Linked DNA regions of Homo sapiens: region 1 is linked to region 2. The links come from fine-mapping of genetic effects on gene expression. A gene starts in region 2. The other region holds a variant in brackets. All regions are shown on one strand. Distances are from middle to middle.

Evidence for each region.
Region 1: its variant is fine-mapped to the expression of HAVCR2 in whole blood (INTERVAL, PIP 0.95).

Annotation. Positions count from the first base shown.
Region 1 is chr5:157,039,065-157,048,005 of GRCh38, reverse strand. HAVCR1 (hepatitis A virus cellular receptor 1) reads left to right here. Exons shown (of 9, transcript NM_001173393.3): 6 at 5,324-5,379. Among named protein-coding and RNA genes, the nearest start is that of HAVCR1, 16 kb to the left of the region's middle. The variant A/G (reference allele first, on the strand shown) is at 5,470.
Region 2 is chr5:157,104,114-157,113,054 of GRCh38, reverse strand. HAVCR2 (hepatitis A virus cellular receptor 2) reads left to right here and starts at 4,011. Exons shown (of 7, transcript NM_032782.5): 1 at 4,011-4,129; 2 at 6,093-6,428; 3 at 8,306-8,389. The coding sequence starts at 4,072. RefSeq lists an enhancer at 4,075-4,224.

The DNA.
Region 1 (8,941 bases), 65 kb after region 2:
AATGTGTGGAGTTTTTTCCCCATACATCAAGCAGTGGACACCGGCTGTGTCTTTAATTCAGTTCTTACACTGTCTACCCGGAGAGAGGGTCATATCCCACAGGTAAGGGGCTCAGTCCCCAAGACTGCCCCTCCCAACCCCACCACACACACCAGTCACAAGTTCGGGTCTCTGGAACTTCTGAGCGGCCAGTTTCAAGTTGGGGTTCCCACAACCCTCTCTTTGGGTTCTATTAATTTCCTGGAGTGGCTTCCAGAACTCAGGGAAACACTTATGTTTACCAGATAATTATAAAGGATATTGCAAAGGATACTGATGATGAGATGCACAGGATGAGGTATATGGGAAAGGGTTCCATGCTCTTCCTTGGGAACTTCACCTTCTAGGAACCTCCAAGTGTTTGACTATCTGGAAGCTCTCAAAACCTAGTCTTCTTGTACTTTTTTTTTTTTTGAGACGGAGTCTTGCTCTGTCATCACCCAGGCTAGAGGGCAGTGACATGATCTTGGCTCACTGCAACCTCTGCTCCCAAGTTCAAGCAATTCTCCTGCCTCAGCTTTCCAAGTAGCTGGGATTACACGTATGCGTCATCCTGCCCGGCTAATTTTGTATTTTTAGTAGAGATGGGGTTTCATCATGTTGTCCAGGCTGGTCTTGAACTCCTGACCTCAGGTGATCTGCCCACCTCAGCCTTCCAAAGTGTTGAGATTACAGGCGTGAGCCACCGCACCCAGGCCTTTTGGGTTTTTATGGAAACTTCAAGACATCAACATTCCATCCCCCAGGGGCACAGGGAAGGACTCTCTCTGGGAAGTGTCTTATGACCCACAATCAGAAAGGCGGGGGAAATTAAAGTTCTGCCTTGTCAGGTGAAAGGAGAGCAGGAGAAAGTCCAATATTGTTTCCTGAGGTCAAACATACTTACCATGATAAGAAAAGACTATAATCAGGGATATGGGAGTTATGAGCCAGGAACCATGCACAGACCTCTATCTATCTATATATGTATGTATAATCTCATAACACCACACCCCTAAATTCATGTTGATAGATAATTCCCAAATTCATGTTGATAGCTAATTCCCAATGCAAGTATTAAGAGCTGGGGCCTTCGGAGCATGATTAGGTCATGAGAGCCCCGCCTTCATGAATGGAATCAATGCTCTTATAAAAGGCCCAAGTTACATTTTCTGGATGGGAGAGAAACAATAAATTAATTAGTTAAACAAAAAGAGGCCCAAGGGAACTTGTTTGACCCTTCCCCCATATAAGAACAAATAGAAGACACCATCTATAGGAAAGAGGACCCTCACTAGATTGAGTAATCAGCCTGTGCCTTGATCTTGGACTACCCAGCCTCGAACTGTGAGCAATAAATTTCTGTTTAAATTACCCAATCTAAGCTATCTTATCATAGCAGCCTGAACAGACTAAGACAGATGAGTTGAGGACACCCACACCAACATCAAAGAGGCATGACCCTCTGAGATCCTGCTACTCTGCTCCAAACAATCCTTACTATTCTTTCAAGTCTGAACAGGCCTCTTAGAGTCTCTGCTCCTTGGAAGTGTAGAATTGACCTGTCTTTCCTTGTGATGGAGAAAGTTGATGCTGAAACCTGTCATCTTTCCCAGCTAACTCTCCTTGTTTCCCTTAGTGGTAAGCTCTGGGAGTGCCCTGTGCTGAGCTCCTCTGTGATGCTGAGCTGGCTCTGTGTCCTTGTGTGGCATCCAAGCAAGGTCACACCTTGCAGGCCTCCTTGTGTGTATGACTCATTGTACTCAGCTGTTGCCAATCTGTAGGCAGCTGCTCCCCAGCCTACATGGCCTACTTTTTTTGCCAATCATTCCTGGTAGCTGGTTAATTTAAAATGGACCTGCAGTGTGATTCACAGAGGGACTCATTCAACTGGGATTAGATAATGGCGACATTTCGTTTTGAAAGTGTAATCCTCAGCGCAAACTGTTTCCAGGCACAAAAGCAAAATGAAAATAGATAAAAACACAACGTAACAGTGGTAGGAGCAGCTGCACCCCACTCTTTGAGAGTGTAAGGAGGAAGAAAGTAGGAGTGGGGAATCATTCTCCGAAATACTATGTCAGTGAAACCTGGTCAAAGTAGAGTTTTCCAGGTGGAACAGACAGTGGAGCAGCTGTATCCCCAGGATTTGTGTGGCTGCTGCCATTTTGGCCGTGGATCCAAGGCTCTTGGGCCAAGTTCTTACTGTGCCTGGGTTGGCCCTCAGTTGCCTAAAGCCCATGGAAGCAAGGAATATTAGATCTGGAAAGGATTGGAGCTGTCATATGGCCCACTACCCACCTTTGACAGATGTATGTGCCAGGAAATGGATATATTATCTTGTTTAATTCTTTCAAGGCAGGCCATATTTAATGCTATTGCCAGATTGAGGAGGCGCTATAAATCTGCTCTGGAGACACACAACTCCCATTTCAGCTATAAGTTACTAGTTCTGTGCCCACAGGAAAATTGTTGAACATTCCTCTTTGAATGATTAGAGTATATGATATTTGGAAAGTGCATTGCATAGTATCTATCCCTCCCTCCTCCCCACTCCTCTTCCCATTATATAATAATAATAGCTTAGTGCCAACCACTTTACATGCATCATCTAATTTAATTGTAACAACTTGATGGGCTGTGTACTATTAATAGGTTGTAGTTCATGCGTACTGTAGCTAGAAATATATATATAGTAGTTTTCCCCTTATCTGCAGTTTTGCTTTTCTGTAGCAGTCAACTATATTCCTCAAATACTAAGATATTTTGAGAGAGACTAAATTCCCATAGCTTTTATTACAGTTTATTTCTATAATTTTTCTATTATATTATTTATTGCTGTTAATATCGTTCTGTGCCTAATTTGTAAATTGAACTTTTATCATAGGTATGTATATCTAGGAAAAACATGGTCTCTATAGGGTTTGGTACTATCCTTGGTTTCATGCATCTACTTGAGGGTCTTGGAACATATCCCCTGTGGATAAGGGGGCACTACTGTATACACACACACACATACACACATAAACACACACCCCTTTATATACCTATACATACATACATAACTGTGTGTATGAAAAGGACCTTGAGTATCAAAGTTACATTGCTAACAGACATTGTCAGCATTGAACTGAAATTTTATTGACTCCGGTCCGTGCTGTTTTTCTGCATCACCCCATCCTCTTCCTGAAACTGTTACTTAAGGTCATAATACCTGTCACAAACAGGGCTGAGATTCTATATATTGCATAAACCTACATATTGCTTTTGGCTTTCTTTTCTCCTTCCTTCCTTCCTTCCTCCCTCCCTCCTTTCTTTCTTTCTTTCTTTCTTTCTTTCTTTCTTTCTTTCTTTCTTTCTTTCTTTCTTTCTCTTTCTTTCTTTCTTTCTTTCTTTCTTTCCTTCTTTCTTTGTCTTTCTTTCTCTCTCCTTCCTTCCTTCCTCCTTTCTTCTTTCCTTTCTTTCTTTCCTTCCTTCCTCCTTCCTTCCTTCCTTCCTTCCTTCCTTCCTTCCTTCCTTTCTTTCTTTCTTTCTTTCTTTCTTTCTTTCTTTCTTTCTTTCTTTCTCCTTCCTTCCTTCCTTCCTTCCTTCCTTCCTTCCTTCCTTCCTTCCTTCCTTCGTCCTTTCTTTCTCCCTTCCCTTCCCTTTCCTTCCTTCTTTCTCAGTCTCACTCTGTTGCCCAGGCTGGAGTGCAGTGGCACAATCTTGGCTCACTGTAATCTCCACCCCCTGAGTTCAAGCAATTCTTGTGTCTCAGCCTCCCAAGTAGCTGGAATTACAGATGTGCAGCATCACGCTGGCTAATTTTTTATATTTTTAGTAGAGATGGGGTTTCACCACATTGGCCAGGCTGATCTTGAACTCCTGACTTCAAGGGATCTGCCTGCCTCAGCCTCCCTAAGTGCTGGGATTACAGGCATGAGCCACTGTGCCTGGCCTTGCCTTTGGCTTTCTAGGAAGCCTCAGAAGCAGTAAAATGTAAACACAGTAATGTAAATGTTGGGGAGATATTAGTCCAAGTTTATTCATGTTGAGCCCTATAGCATTGTCACCAGTTACAGAATTTCATAGACCTAAGTATTTCCATTTGATAGAAGTGCAATGTGTTGTGTAGGTTATCAGCAGAGGCTCTTGTCACTTAATTAGAAATCATCGTTTAACCATTTCCTGTGTATTTCTTTATCCATAAAAATGGGATTAAGGAACTAACTGGTTGTTAGAAGGTAAAGTGTTCACTACATGGTAGATGCTCAGTAAAAAGTCAGTTCTGTATTTGACCTATAGTTGTCTAGGAAGGCCAACAGAATATACTCTTTTTTGGGGACAGGGTCTCACTCTGTTGCCCAGCCTGGAGTGCAGTGGTGCCATCACAGCTCACCGAAACCTCTGCCTCCAAGGTTCAGGGATTCTCCTACCTCAGCCATCCGAGTAGCTAAGTCTACAGGCATGTGCCACCATGCCCAGCTAATTTTTTGTATTTTTTGTTAGAGATGGGATTTCACTATGTTGGCCAGGCTGGTCTTGAACTCCTGACCTCAAGTGATCCGCCTGCCTTGGACTCCCAAAGTGCTTGGGTTTATAGGCATGAGCCACCCATGCCTGGCTGAGAATATACTGTCTATTACAAAGCAGATATTTTAAAACATGTTGAAATTTTTAAATGTTCAACTCTAAGAGAAATGTATCTTATATATTACATAAAATCTTAATCCTTATATGGCATAATATGCTTGATCTGGTGGCTGCCATATTTTCTAAAGCACTTCTAGATCAAAATGTAAGCACATCGGCAACAACACAGGAGTTATATGCCACCTGTTTTTGATATTACAGCATATTTTACTCCTTCTGAATATAAAACCAATATGATGTCCATTCTGAAAAGGGTGGTTCTGGTTTTTGGATGTACATGCCTCTGACCATTCATTTACAGCTGTTTAGATAGCATAAAAGTATTGATTGCCTTTAAATGGCATTCTTAACCTGGTTCCATGAATGGGCTTCTGTGATGACCCTAAAATAGTAGATAAAATTCATGTGTGTGCACATGCATTATTTTTTTAATAAAGAAAAAACAAGAGTCCATTTTCAAAGAGCCGGTGACAGAAAGGTTAAGAAATACAACTTTACAGGAGAAATTAATATAACATTAATAACTTGGTATGACTCTTGCAGTGCCTGCAGAATTTGGTCATATTATCATTCAACTTTTCATCGCCAGAAGGTAATGTGAATATATTTAGTGTCTGCAGTGAAAATTCAATATTTTTTGTAATTCTAATTAAATTTCCTTCTTGTTGAGTAGATGGGAATGACACCGTGACAGAGTCTTCAGATGGCCTTTGGAATAACAATCAAACTGTAAGCATATTCCGCCCTATTTGATTAGCCAGATTCACTTGTATATCTCCTTGGAAGCAAGTTACATTTAAAGACTATGTCTGTAAGACT[A/G]GCCCACAGAATTTTTTTTTTCTTCTTAAAAAAAAGTTGAAGAAAATAATTTCACTCTTAAATAGGATGCTTTAATTTTTTTTTTTTTTTTTTTTGAGACGGAGTCTTGCTCTGTTGCCCAGGCTGGAGTGCAGTGGTGCAATCTCTGCTCACTGTAAGCTCCGCTTCCCGGGTTCAGGCCATTCTCCTGCCTCAGCCTCCCGAATAGCTGGGACTACAGGCGCCCGCCACCATGCCCGGCTAATTTTTTGTATTTTTAGTAGAGACGGGGTTTCACCGTGTTAGCCAGGATAGTCTCGATCTCCTGACCTCATGATCCGCCCGCCTCGGGATGCTTTAATTTGGAAAGTTCATTTAGGTGACCCAGTTTGTCAGAGATGCCCAAAGAGATTATGTTACTGAATAGCGTACTTAGATACATAGTACACAGACTTTCTGTTGGGAGAAAATAGGGGAAGAAAGAATGAGCTAATTTTTTGAGACAGAACATCACTCTGTCTCCTAGGCTGGAGTGTAGTGATGCGATCTCAGCTCACTGCAACCTCCGCCTCCTGGGTTCAAGCAATTCTCCTGCCTCGGCCTCCAGAGTAGTTGGGACTACAGGCGCACGCCACCACGCCTGGCTAATTTTTGTATTTTTAGTAGAGGTGGGGTTTCACCATGTTGGCCAGGCTAGTCTCAAACTCCTGACCTCAGGCAATCTACCCGCCTCGGCCTCCCAAAGTGCTGGGATTACAGGCGTGAGCCACCGCGCCCGGGCCCGAATGAGCTAATTTAAGGAGAACAAGTTAAGATAACACACCAAGGAGGAATTCAATTATCAATAGGGAAACAGCATGCTTTGATGGGGTGGAGTAGAGGCTGCCCCAAACAAAAGTAAAATGTAAGTGAAAGGAACATAATATGTTTATTTTCCTAATATATTTTCCCTACCTAATGACCATTTTATGTAGAAATTTTAAAATGTCTATTGATGTTTTTCTATACATAAACCTCCCCATGGGATGACTTTTTATTCTTTCTTTCTTTTTTTTATTTTTTGAGACAGTCTTGTTCTGTCACCCAGGCTGGAGTGCACTGGCGGGATCCCAGCTCACTGCAACCTCCTCTTCTTGGGTTCAAGTGATTCCCCTGCCTCAGCCTTCCAAGTAGCTAGGATTACAGGTGCATACCACCATACCTGGATAATTTTTGTGTTTTTAGTAGAGATGAGGTTTCATCATGTTTACCAGGCTGGTCTTGAACTTCTGATCTCAAGTGATCCTCCCGCCTTGGCCTCCCAAAGTGCTGGAATTACAGGCGTGAGCCACCGTACCCGGCCCAGGATGATTTTTTAAGATAACAAAGTCCTAGATAATAACTTTGATTCTGTAAAATGTTTCCATACTTTTTTTCTCAGTGAACTTGGGAAAAATTTAAGGGACTTAGTCTTATGATGCTCATCAAAGTCTTCTACCTCCATGTAAGTTAGATAGATTTACTAATAAGATCTTTTCTTTTGGCTCCTGTAAGAAACAATCTGCCTTTTAGTATGTGCAAGTAACTTTTTGAAGTAACAAACAAAAAAAGTCTGAGGTTATGAGAATAATCCTTCTGAGGTTTTTATTTTTTATTATTTATTTATTTATTTATTTTTGAGACAGGGTTTTACTTTCATCGCCCAGGCTGGAGTACAGTTTCACAATCTCAGCTCACTGCAACCTCCACCTTCCGGGTTCAAGTGATTCTTGTGCCTCAGCCTCCCCAGTAGCTGGGATTATAGGCGCCCACCACCATGCCTGGCTAGTTTTTGTGTTTTTAGTAGAGATGGAATTTCACCACGTTGGCCATGCTGGTCTGGAACTCCTGACCTCAGGTGATCTGCCTGCCTTGGCCTCCCACAAGTGCTGGGATTACAGGCATGAGCCACCGCAGCTGGCCCGAGAATAATCCTTCTGATAGCCAGTTGTAAGAAATGACAACGTGGCCATTGTATAAAAAATTCAAAATGATCAAAGTGGGGCTATTTAGTGTAGAGCCAAATACCTTAGTGACATTGTGAATGCCATTACATGGCGTAACATTTAAACATTTAGCAACTTGTATGGCATGCACTGATTGATCTGACATACTGGCTAAATATCAGAACTACCACCATGTATATGTTCAATGTGTTGACGTGTGGCTAGATTTGTGCTGGATTTAAAAAATACTCCTCAGGATAGTGAGGTTATTCTTTTCTTTTCTTTTTTTTTTTTTGAGACAGAGTTTCACTCTTGTTACCCAGGCTGGAGGGCAATGGCGCGATCTTGGCTCACTGCAACCTCCGCCTCCCAGGTTCAAGCAATTCTCCTGCCTCAGCCTCCCGAGTAGCTGGGATTACAGGCACCTGCCACCAGGCCTGGCTAATTTTGTGTTTTTAGTAGAGACAGGGTTTTTCCATGTTGGTCAGGCTGGTCTCCAACTCCCGACCTCAGGTGATCCACCCGCCTTGGCCTTCCAAAGTGCTGGGATTCCACAGACGTGAGCTACCGCGCCTGGCCGGTGAGGTTATTCTTGGTCTCAGTTACCTACAGAATAGGTATGTTTAGAAGTAAGGGAAAACAATTTAGAGGCCGGTTCAAGGTTGGCAGTAGCAGAAACTTGGGCTTTCTGTGCCTTGACTGAAGATGTCAAGATGTCTTCTCCCAGGTATCTTGAAAACATGCAGAATACATTTTGACCCAGTAGGTCACTTTCCTGGGCTCTATCTTAAGGAAAAAATTGAACTAATAAATAAAAATGTATGAGAAGGATGTTCATTGTTAACACTTATAATCATGAAAATATTATAAACAACCTAAATGTTTAATAGTAAGGGATTACTTAGTTAAGCATGTGCACGTATTGCCGTAAAGAATGTAGTCATTGGCAGGGCACGCTGGCTCACGCCTGTAATTCCAGCACTTTGGGAGGCTGAGGCAGGTGGATCACCTGAGGTCAGGAGTTTGAGACCAGCCTGACCAATATGATGAAACCTCCTCTGTACTAAAAATAGAAAAATTAGCTGGGTGTGGTGGCGGGTGCCTGTAATCCCAGCTACTTGGGAGGCTGAGGCAGGAGAATCGCTTCAACCCAGGAGGTGGAGATTGCAGTGAGCCGAGATTGCACCACTGTACTCCAGCCTGGGCAACAGAGCATAAGAATGTAGTCATTGCAGTGCATTTACTGACATAGGTTATAGAATGTTATAATATGTTGGTTATAACACATTATTAAGTGAAAGAAGCTACTTTTAAAATAGTATACAATTAGGATATACTATAGTTCATATAGAATATAGTAATTATTTCTGTTAAGAAAAAATCCTAGAAGGATAAAATTCTATAAAAGTATATAAAGCAAAATGGCAAAAGTGCTCATTTCTGGATGTTAAAGTTATGGTTTATTTATTTATTCGAGACAGAGTCTCACTCCATTGCTCAGGCTGGAGTGCAGTGGCACGATCACAGCT
Region 2 (8,941 bases):
AGGGCAGACTGTCTTCGATTAAAAGAGACTTGAGGGACATAGCAAACAAATGCAATGCTGGGACTTGTTTGGATCTGGATTTAAACAAACTGATTGAAAAAAGACATTTTTGAGATAATCAGGGAGATTTGGCTATAGACTGAAGTACTAGGTGCTTCTAAGGCATCATTAAATTTGTTATGTGCGATAATGATATTATGATTATATTAGCAGAATGTCCATTTTTGTTTGTTGGTTGGTTTGTTTTGAGACGAAATTTTGCGCTTGTTGTCCAGGCTGGAATGCAGTGGCACAATCTCGGCTCACTGCAACCTCTGCCTCCCTGGTTCAAGCGATTCTCCTGCCTCAGCCTCCCAAGTAGCTGCGATTACAGGCACCCACCACCATGCCTGGCTAATTTTTTGTATTTTTAGTAGAGATGGGGTTTTCACCGTGTTAGCCAGGCTGGTCTCGATCTTCTGACCTCAGGTGATCCACCTGCCTCGGCCTCCCAAAGTGCTGGGATTACAGCCGTGAGTCACCACACCCGGCTTCAGAATGCCCATTTTTTAAAAAGGAAGATTGCACACTAAAGTACGTAAAAGTGAAATAGCACGATGTCTGGGATTCGTTTAAAAATATTTCAGCAGACTCGGCATGGTGGCTCACACCTGTAATCCCAGCACTTTGGGAGGCTGAGGCAGGAGGATCCCTTGAGCCCAGGAGTTTGAGACCAGCCTGGGTAACCTAGTGAGACCCTTGTCTCTAAAAATAAATTAAAACAAATTTAAAAAAAAATAAAGGGCCAGGTGCGGCGGCTCCTGCCTGTAATCAGCAATTTGGAATGCTGGGACGGGCAGATCACCTGAGGTCAGGAATTTGAGACCAGCCTGGCCAACATGGTAAAACCCTGTCTCTACTAAAAATACAAAAATTAACCGGGCATGGTGACAGGTGCCTATAATCCCAGCTACTTGGGAGGCTGAGGGGAGGCAGAGGTTGCAGTAAGCCGAGATAGCACCATTGCACTCCAGCCTGAGAGACAAGAGTGAAACTCCATCTCAAAAAATAAATAAATAAATAAATAAAAATAAAATAAATAAAATAAATAAAATTTTAAAAATAAATATTTCAGCAAATAACAATAGGAAAATGCAAGTTTCAAAAAAGGTATATGGTATTTTGTCTAAGAAAAGAGAGTATGAGAATATATATTTTATTTTCTTGGGTTTGCATTGGGAGTATACACAAGAAACTTATGAAAATGAAAACCTGGTCGGGTGCAGTGGCTCAAGCCTGTAATCCCAGCACTTTGGGAGGCTGAAGTGGGCAGATTGCAAGGTCAGGAGTTCGAGATCAGCCTGACCAACATGGTGAAAACCCATCTCTACTAAAAATACAAAAATTAGCTGGGCACGGTGGCAGGTGCCTATAATCTCAGCTACTCAGGAGGCTGAGGCAGGAGAATCGCTTGAACTTGGGAGTCGCAGGTTGCAGTGAGCTGAGATCGTGACGCTGCACTCCAGCCTGGGTGACAGGGCGAGACTCTATGTCAAAAAAAAAAAAAAAAGAAAACCTATAGCATAGGTGGGAGAAATGGGGGTAAACATGGAAGGATGGGATCATGGGATCAAGGCTTCTTGAGCTTTTTATATTCCTTTTACTTTTTAACTATTTGAATGTATTATCTAAAGTTTTTAAGAAAATAAACAGGAAATAAAAGTTAAGTGAACATGAAAATGTTCAGAACCAGCTCCCTACACACACAAGAGAGTTAAAGGAGATCTCTAGACCCCTTCATATCTAGACTTTAATGAACTAATAAATTGTTAATGTTTTATAAAGCTGGTCTCAGTAGCAATTCTAGAAATGAGCAGAAAACAAAGTGGTAAAAACAAAACATCGCTGGGCACGGTGGCTCATGCCTGTAATCCCAGCATTTTGAGAGGCCGAGGCAGGTAGATCACCTGAGGTCAGAAGTTCGAGACCAGCCTGACCAATATGGTGAAACCCTGTCTCTACTAAAAATACAAAAATTAGCCGGGCATGGTGGTGTGCGCTCTTAGTCCCAGCTACTTGGGAGGCTGAGACAGGAGAATTGCTTGAACACAGGAGGCGGAGTTTGCAGTGAGCCGAGATCGCGCCACTGCACTCCAGCCTGGGCGACAGAGCAAGACTCTGTCTCAAAACAAAAACAAAAACAAAACAAAACAAAACACAGAAACTGAGGGCTGATGCTTTTAAGAGCCTTGACCAAGTTCATGCTGCTAATAAAAATAACCCCAGACCCCATATTTAATCTATTCTACCTTATGCTTGAATATGGTCATTTGCTGGTTATTAGTTATGTGGGAAGACAAACATTAAATTAATAAAACATAATTTATAGTGGAAAAAATCTGTCACTTAGGGGGCTTATGCTCTCATTCTAAATCACCAATCATGTGCCTTTCGGCAAATCAATTTTCTGAAGTCTCAGATTCCTTGTCTATAAAATGAGAAATTGGCCGGGCGCGGTGGCTATGCCTGTAAACCCAGCACTTTGGGAGGCCGAGGCGGGTGGATCGCCTGAGGTCGGGAGTTCAAGAACAGCCTGACCAACATGGAGAAACCCCGTCTCTACTAAAAATACAAAATTATCCGGGGTGGTGGCACATGCCTGTAATCCCAGCTACTCAGGAGGCTGAGGCAGGAGAATCACTTGAACCCGGGAGGCAGAGGTTGCAGTGAGCCGAGATCATGCCATTGCACTCCAGCCTGGACAAAAAGAGCGAAACTCCATCTCAAAAAAATAAATAAATAAATAAAAATAAAATAAAATAAAATGAGAAATTGATTATGATCTCTTGAGTAACTGCCACTCTGCAATGCTATGGGAAGTACACACATTGAACAAGTTGCATATTTATATTAAATGCCATTTGTTTATATTGAACAAATTTGGTATTTATACCCAATGCATTTAATGGCATAAATGTGAATGACAAAGAAACTCAGGAAGGCAAGACATAGAGGAAGGCCACTGGCTTTTCAGAAACCACTCAGCCTGTGAGCTCACTTCCCTTTTATAAAAAAAAGCTTTTGCTTTTAAGGTGTCCAGATAAAGGTCACACTCCCAGAGCTGAGGCTACGTGAGTCTAAGCTGTTACCTCAGTTATGGGAGTGTGGCTGGAACTCAACACTTTCTGATCATTCATGGCCAAAGCCTCTTGGGGTAGGGGAGAGGGGGCACCTTGTATGCATGAGATGAAACAGGATACCAAGATCCCCTTAATTCTACTCAGAGTAGAGGAAAGGAACTGTTGCCAAAAGGAACATGTTTTTTCTAAATTGAAGAGTTGGAAGTTTGAAGGTCAAAGTCAGAATATTAGAACAGAGAGCCATGCATGTATTATCTAATACAATTTTCTCATTTTATAAATTATATAAATGAGGAAACTGAGACTCAGCAAGGTTATAGGATACAACCTAATCTGTGTTAGAAGAAGGATGAGAGTGAGGCTTATGCTGGGAGTTGCTATGGTCTGTAAATGTGAGGATAAGGAACATGCCATTCACTGTTGTGTTCCACTTCCTAGTCCAGTGCCTGGTGCAAAGTAGGGGCTTCATAAACTTTGGTCACAGGCCTGATGAAGGGACTGATTTGAGTGAATGAATCCATGGATGATGCATCTGTACTTTGTGTTCCCCGCTAGTCAGATGGACTCGGACATGCTCCATTTCAGGTGTATCTCATCTGAGACATTATTAGAGGGTTCTCTTTATGTGCCATGACTGAGTAGCGTTTTCTTCCACTGAAGTATTGCTTCCTCTTTGTTGATATCACAGGACAGACATCAGAACACTTACAGGATGTGTGTAGTGTGGCATGACAGAGAACTTTGGTTTCCTTTAATGTGACTGTAGACCTGGCAGTGTTACTATAAGAATCACTGGCAATCAGACACCCGGGTGTGCTGAGCTAGCACTCAGTGGGGGCGGCTACTGCTCATGTGATTGTGGAGTAGACAGTTGGAAGAAGTACCCAGTCCATTTGGAGAGTTAAAACTGTGCCTAACAGAGGTGTCCTCTGACTTTTCTTCTGCAAGCTCCATGTTTTCACATCTTCCCTTTGACTGTGTCCTGCTGCTGCTGCTGCTACTACTTACAAGTAAGTCTCGGCATGGATATTTACAATGACATAATGGTGCTGTACAGAGGACAAGGGAGAGATACAAGGATGGCCATTGTAATGTTGTTTGTAATAGCAAAAGCTTGGAAGCAACCTAAATGTCCGTCGATGAGGGAGTGGGTAAATAAATGTGATATAATCATGATACAAACAGTGAGTCTGACAAAACATACTGGTATAGAATGTCTCAAAATTATAATGTTATTAAAGAAAAAAAGTTGCAGAATAATGCATATATTAGGCTTCTATTTGTGTGTGTGCATTGTCGGGGAGCAGGAATATGTGGACATTTCTTAATGTATAAGCTCTAGGAAAAGGAACCAGGGAATGGTAAAGAGTTGGGAGAGTAAGGCATATTTTTCTTTTCTTTTCTTTCCTTTTTTTCTTTTTCTTTTCTTTCTTTTTCTTTTTTTCAATTGAGATGGAGTCTCACTCTATTGCCCAGGCTGGAGTGCAGTGGTGGCACCATTTTGGCTCACTGCAATCTCCGCCTCCCAGGTTCAAGTGATTCTCCTGCCTTAGGCACCGGAGTAGCTGGGATCACAGGCGTGCACCACCACACCCAGCTAATGTTTTTAATTTTTAGTAGAGACAGGGTTTTACCATGTTGGTCAGGCTGGTCTCAAACTCATGGCCTCAAGTAATCTGCCCATCTCAGCCTCCCAAAGTGCTGGGATTACAGGCGTGACCCACCGTGTGCCCGGCCACTTTTTCATACACCTTTGATAGTGTTTGAATGTTTTTACTGTAGTTGAGTCATATGAAAACAAAGGGGACATAAAAAATCAAAAGAAAATATATAATGAATGTTTTATCATATATAAAATATATATAGTTTTTTTTTAATGGAATTAACTTTGTCATTTGAGGAAAATGAGGAGACAAGTCTCAATCATTTTAGGAGATTTGTTTGCCAAAGTTAAGGAGGCACCTGAGAGACAGGTCTATGACTTTCTCAGAAGATGATTTTGAGGGCTCCAGATTTAAAGGGGACAAGGTGGGATATTGAGAAGCACTCAGTTTTCACATAAAAAAGGGGGGGGGGCAGAGGAAAAATATGGGGAATCTGCATTTTACATTAGATAACACAGACAAAATGGGGTAGGGAAACAATCAGATAACGCATTTGTGTCTGGCCAGGGTGACCGCACCGGTAAAGATGAGCTATCAATCTGCATTGCACAGCTGACCAGGAATTTCCTTGTGGGCAAAATATGGGGGAGGTATGCAGCCTTTCATCCTGTAGCCATCTTATTCAGGAATCAAAAAGAGGAGGCAGGTTTCTGTGACCCAGTTCCCAGCTTGACTTTTCCCTTTGACTGAATGAGTTTGGGGTCCCAAAATTTAATTTCTTTTCACAACTTTAAACCTTAAAACAACTCCATGAGTAGTTTCAAATACACAAGATCCTTATTTAACCAAGGGTTTGTATTTACTGTGCACTTGCTGCTTAAAAAGAGAAGTATGTTAGGAGAGCCTCCCTTTGTTGATGAACAAGCAAGTAGCCCAGATGGGCGGGCCGTTTCCTGGCTGACCATGACTAATTTTCTGATTGTCTGTTTCCATCAGCCCTGTTCTCCCGTGTTCACAGAATTGGGCCACAATTCTCTCCTAGGGCAGTGTTTCTGAAAGTGAGGTTCTGAGACCAGCCACTTCAGCAACACTTGAGAACTTGTTAGAAATAAAAGTTCTCAGGCTCTACCACAGGCCAACTGAGTCAGGAACTCTAGCAGTTGAGCCCAGCAATCTGTGTTTTCGCAAGGCTTCCCAGTGATTCTGATGGCCTTCACATCTGAGAAGCATTGTCACAGCGAATCATCCTCCAAACAGGACTGCAGCAGTAGCTTCCTCTTTATTCTGTAAGACATGGCTTGCAGTTTTCCTGAAATGGAGTAACCTCACTCACCGCTTGAGTCTTGGCTCTCCTTCTCTCTCTATGCAGGGTCCTCAGAAGTGGAATACAGAGCGGAGGTCGGTCAGAATGCCTATCTGCCCTGCTTCTACACCCCAGCCGCCCCAGGGAACCTCGTGCCCGTCTGCTGGGGCAAAGGAGCCTGTCCTGTGTTTGAATGTGGCAACGTGGTGCTCAGGACTGATGAAAGGGATGTGAATTATTGGACATCCAGATACTGGCTAAATGGGGATTTCCGCAAAGGAGATGTGTCCCTGACCATAGAGAATGTGACTCTAGCAGACAGTGGGATCTACTGCTGCCGGATCCAAATCCCAGGCATAATGAATGATGAAAAATTTAACCTGAAGTTGGTCATCAAACCAGGTGAGTGGACATTTGCATGCCATCTTTATGAATAAGATTTATCTGTGGATCATATTAAAGGTACTGATTGTTCTCATCTCTGACTTCCCTAATTATAGCCCTGGAGGAGGGCCACTAAGACCTAAAGTTTAACAGGCCCCATTGGTGATGCTCAGTGATATTTAACACCTTCTCTCTGTTTTAAAACTCATGGGTGTGCCTGGGCGTGGTGGCTCACACCTCTAATCCCAGCACTTTGGGAGGCTGAGGCCGGTGGATCATGAGGTCAGGAATTCGAGACCAGCCTGGCCAACATAGTAAAACCTTGTCTCCACTAAAAATACAAAAAATTAGCCAGGCATGGTTACGGGAGCCTGTAATTCTAGCTACTTGGGGGGCTGAAGCAGGAGAATCACTTGAACCTGGGAGTCGGAGGTTGTGGTAAGCCAAGATCTCGCCATTGTACTCCAGCCTGGCTGACAAGGGTGAAACTCTGTCTCAAAAAAAAAAAAAGAAAAGAAAAGAAAAGCCAAAACTCATGGGTGGAATGTATAGATGGGATGAAAGGCCTAGATCAGTGGTTAGAGACCCTGACTCTCATTAGAATCACATAGAGAGTTTTTAAACAACTATAGATGCCAGGTACAGTGGCTCATGCCTATAATCCCAATACTTTGAGAGGCTGAAGCAGGAGGATCACTTGAGGTCAGGAGTTTGAGACCAGCCTGGCTGATATACTGTGGCTACCCCTATCTCTTAAAAAGCAGAAGAAAAAACCCCACTACCAAAAACCAGAGAAATCAGCATCTCTGGAGGTAGATGCTAAGCATTAGCTTTTTACAGAGTCTACCTCAGGTGATTTTACCCCAGGTGCAGCCAGCATGGTGAACTGCTGGGTTATGCATGTATGCTGGGAGGTGAACAGACTTAAGATTTCTATAACATGTACTTTGTGCCCAGATAGAGCTGAGTTTACATCTAACTCTGCCTCTTACTAGCTATATAATCCTGAGCAAGTTATTGAAACGCTGTGAGCTCCTCTTCTATAAAATATGACAATAATACCGATCATGTGGGCCATTAGAAGGATTTTATGTGATAATATTTTATTAAAAGCCTTTATAGGTTGGGCATCCCAAATCTGAAAATCTAAAACCTAAAATGCACCAAAATCTGAAATGCTCTAAAATCCAAAACTTTTTGGACACTGACATGACATTCAAAGGAAAAGCTCATTGGAACATAAGTATAGGCAGATACTAAAAAATAAAAAAATAAAAACATGGCTGGGCGTGGTGGCTCATGCCTATAATCCCAGCACTTTGGGAGGCTGAGGTGGGTGGATCACCTGAGGTCGGGAGTTCGAGACCAGTCTGACCAACATGGAGAAACCCTGTCTCTACTAAAAATACAAAATTAGCCAGGTGTGGTTGCACATGCCTGTAGTCCCAGCTACTCAGGAGTCTGAGGCAGGAGAATTGCTTGAACCCAGGAGGCGGAGGTTGCAGTGAGCCGAGATTATGCCATTGCACTCCAGCCTGGGCAACAAGAGCAAAACTCCGTTTCAAAAAAAAAAAAAAAATTCAAAATCTAAAACATTTCTGATCTCAAGCATTTCAGATAAGGAGTCTTCAACCTGTAATTATGGCCATTTGTGTGGCTGTTAGTTCCGCTATTAATAATCAGAATGTAACAATGATGACTGCATCTTACCTTTGTCAAACATTTGAAGTGTGTGATACACTCTCAACGTAGGTATCCAGGCAGGTTTGGAAGCTGAGGGTGTATTTCTCTTTCTTAATTGTCTTTCGCATTTTTTTCTTGCTGCCCCTTTGATTCCCTGAAATAAGCTTTCTGCTCTCAGATAATTTTCATCCTTATGTTGTTTCTGACATTAGCCAAGGTCACCCCTGCACCGACTCGGCAGAGAGACTTCACTGCAGCCTTTCCAAGGATGCTTACCACCAGGGGACATGGCCCAGGTAACTATGCATGGGGCAGAGGAGGGAATCTTTAGCTGGCTCTGAATTCAGAGGATTTTGAATGTGGGAAAAAAAGATGAGAAAACAGTGTGAGAGTGGAGGCATGGATATCTCCGTGCACCTGAAATAGTGTTTGAAAAGAGGGAAGTGGTGGAGACACACCTGTGCTGGGAAAAAGATGGTCTGGCTTAGGATTATTTTACTTAAATTTTAACTGGAAAAAAGTTAATAAACTTTATAGTCTTTAATTTTACTTAAATATTAACTAAATTGAATGAAATGCTCATTACTTTGTCCACATTTTCTGACTGACCCTGGACTGGTGATGTTTGGTCATGAACTGGTGTCAGTCTGTGTTTGGGAACTGACACATTGGATTAGGTGATTTCTAGGATGCCTTCTAGCTAGAATAAAGCCCATCACCTTCCCTGGATTCCAGCCACAGAAAGAATAGTTAAATTCTTCATGTAATTCAGCAAGGACGTACTCAGGGTGCTCCAGAAGAGAACACTGGGCATAAAGCAGAAGTCAAGTCACATTGATCATGAAGGT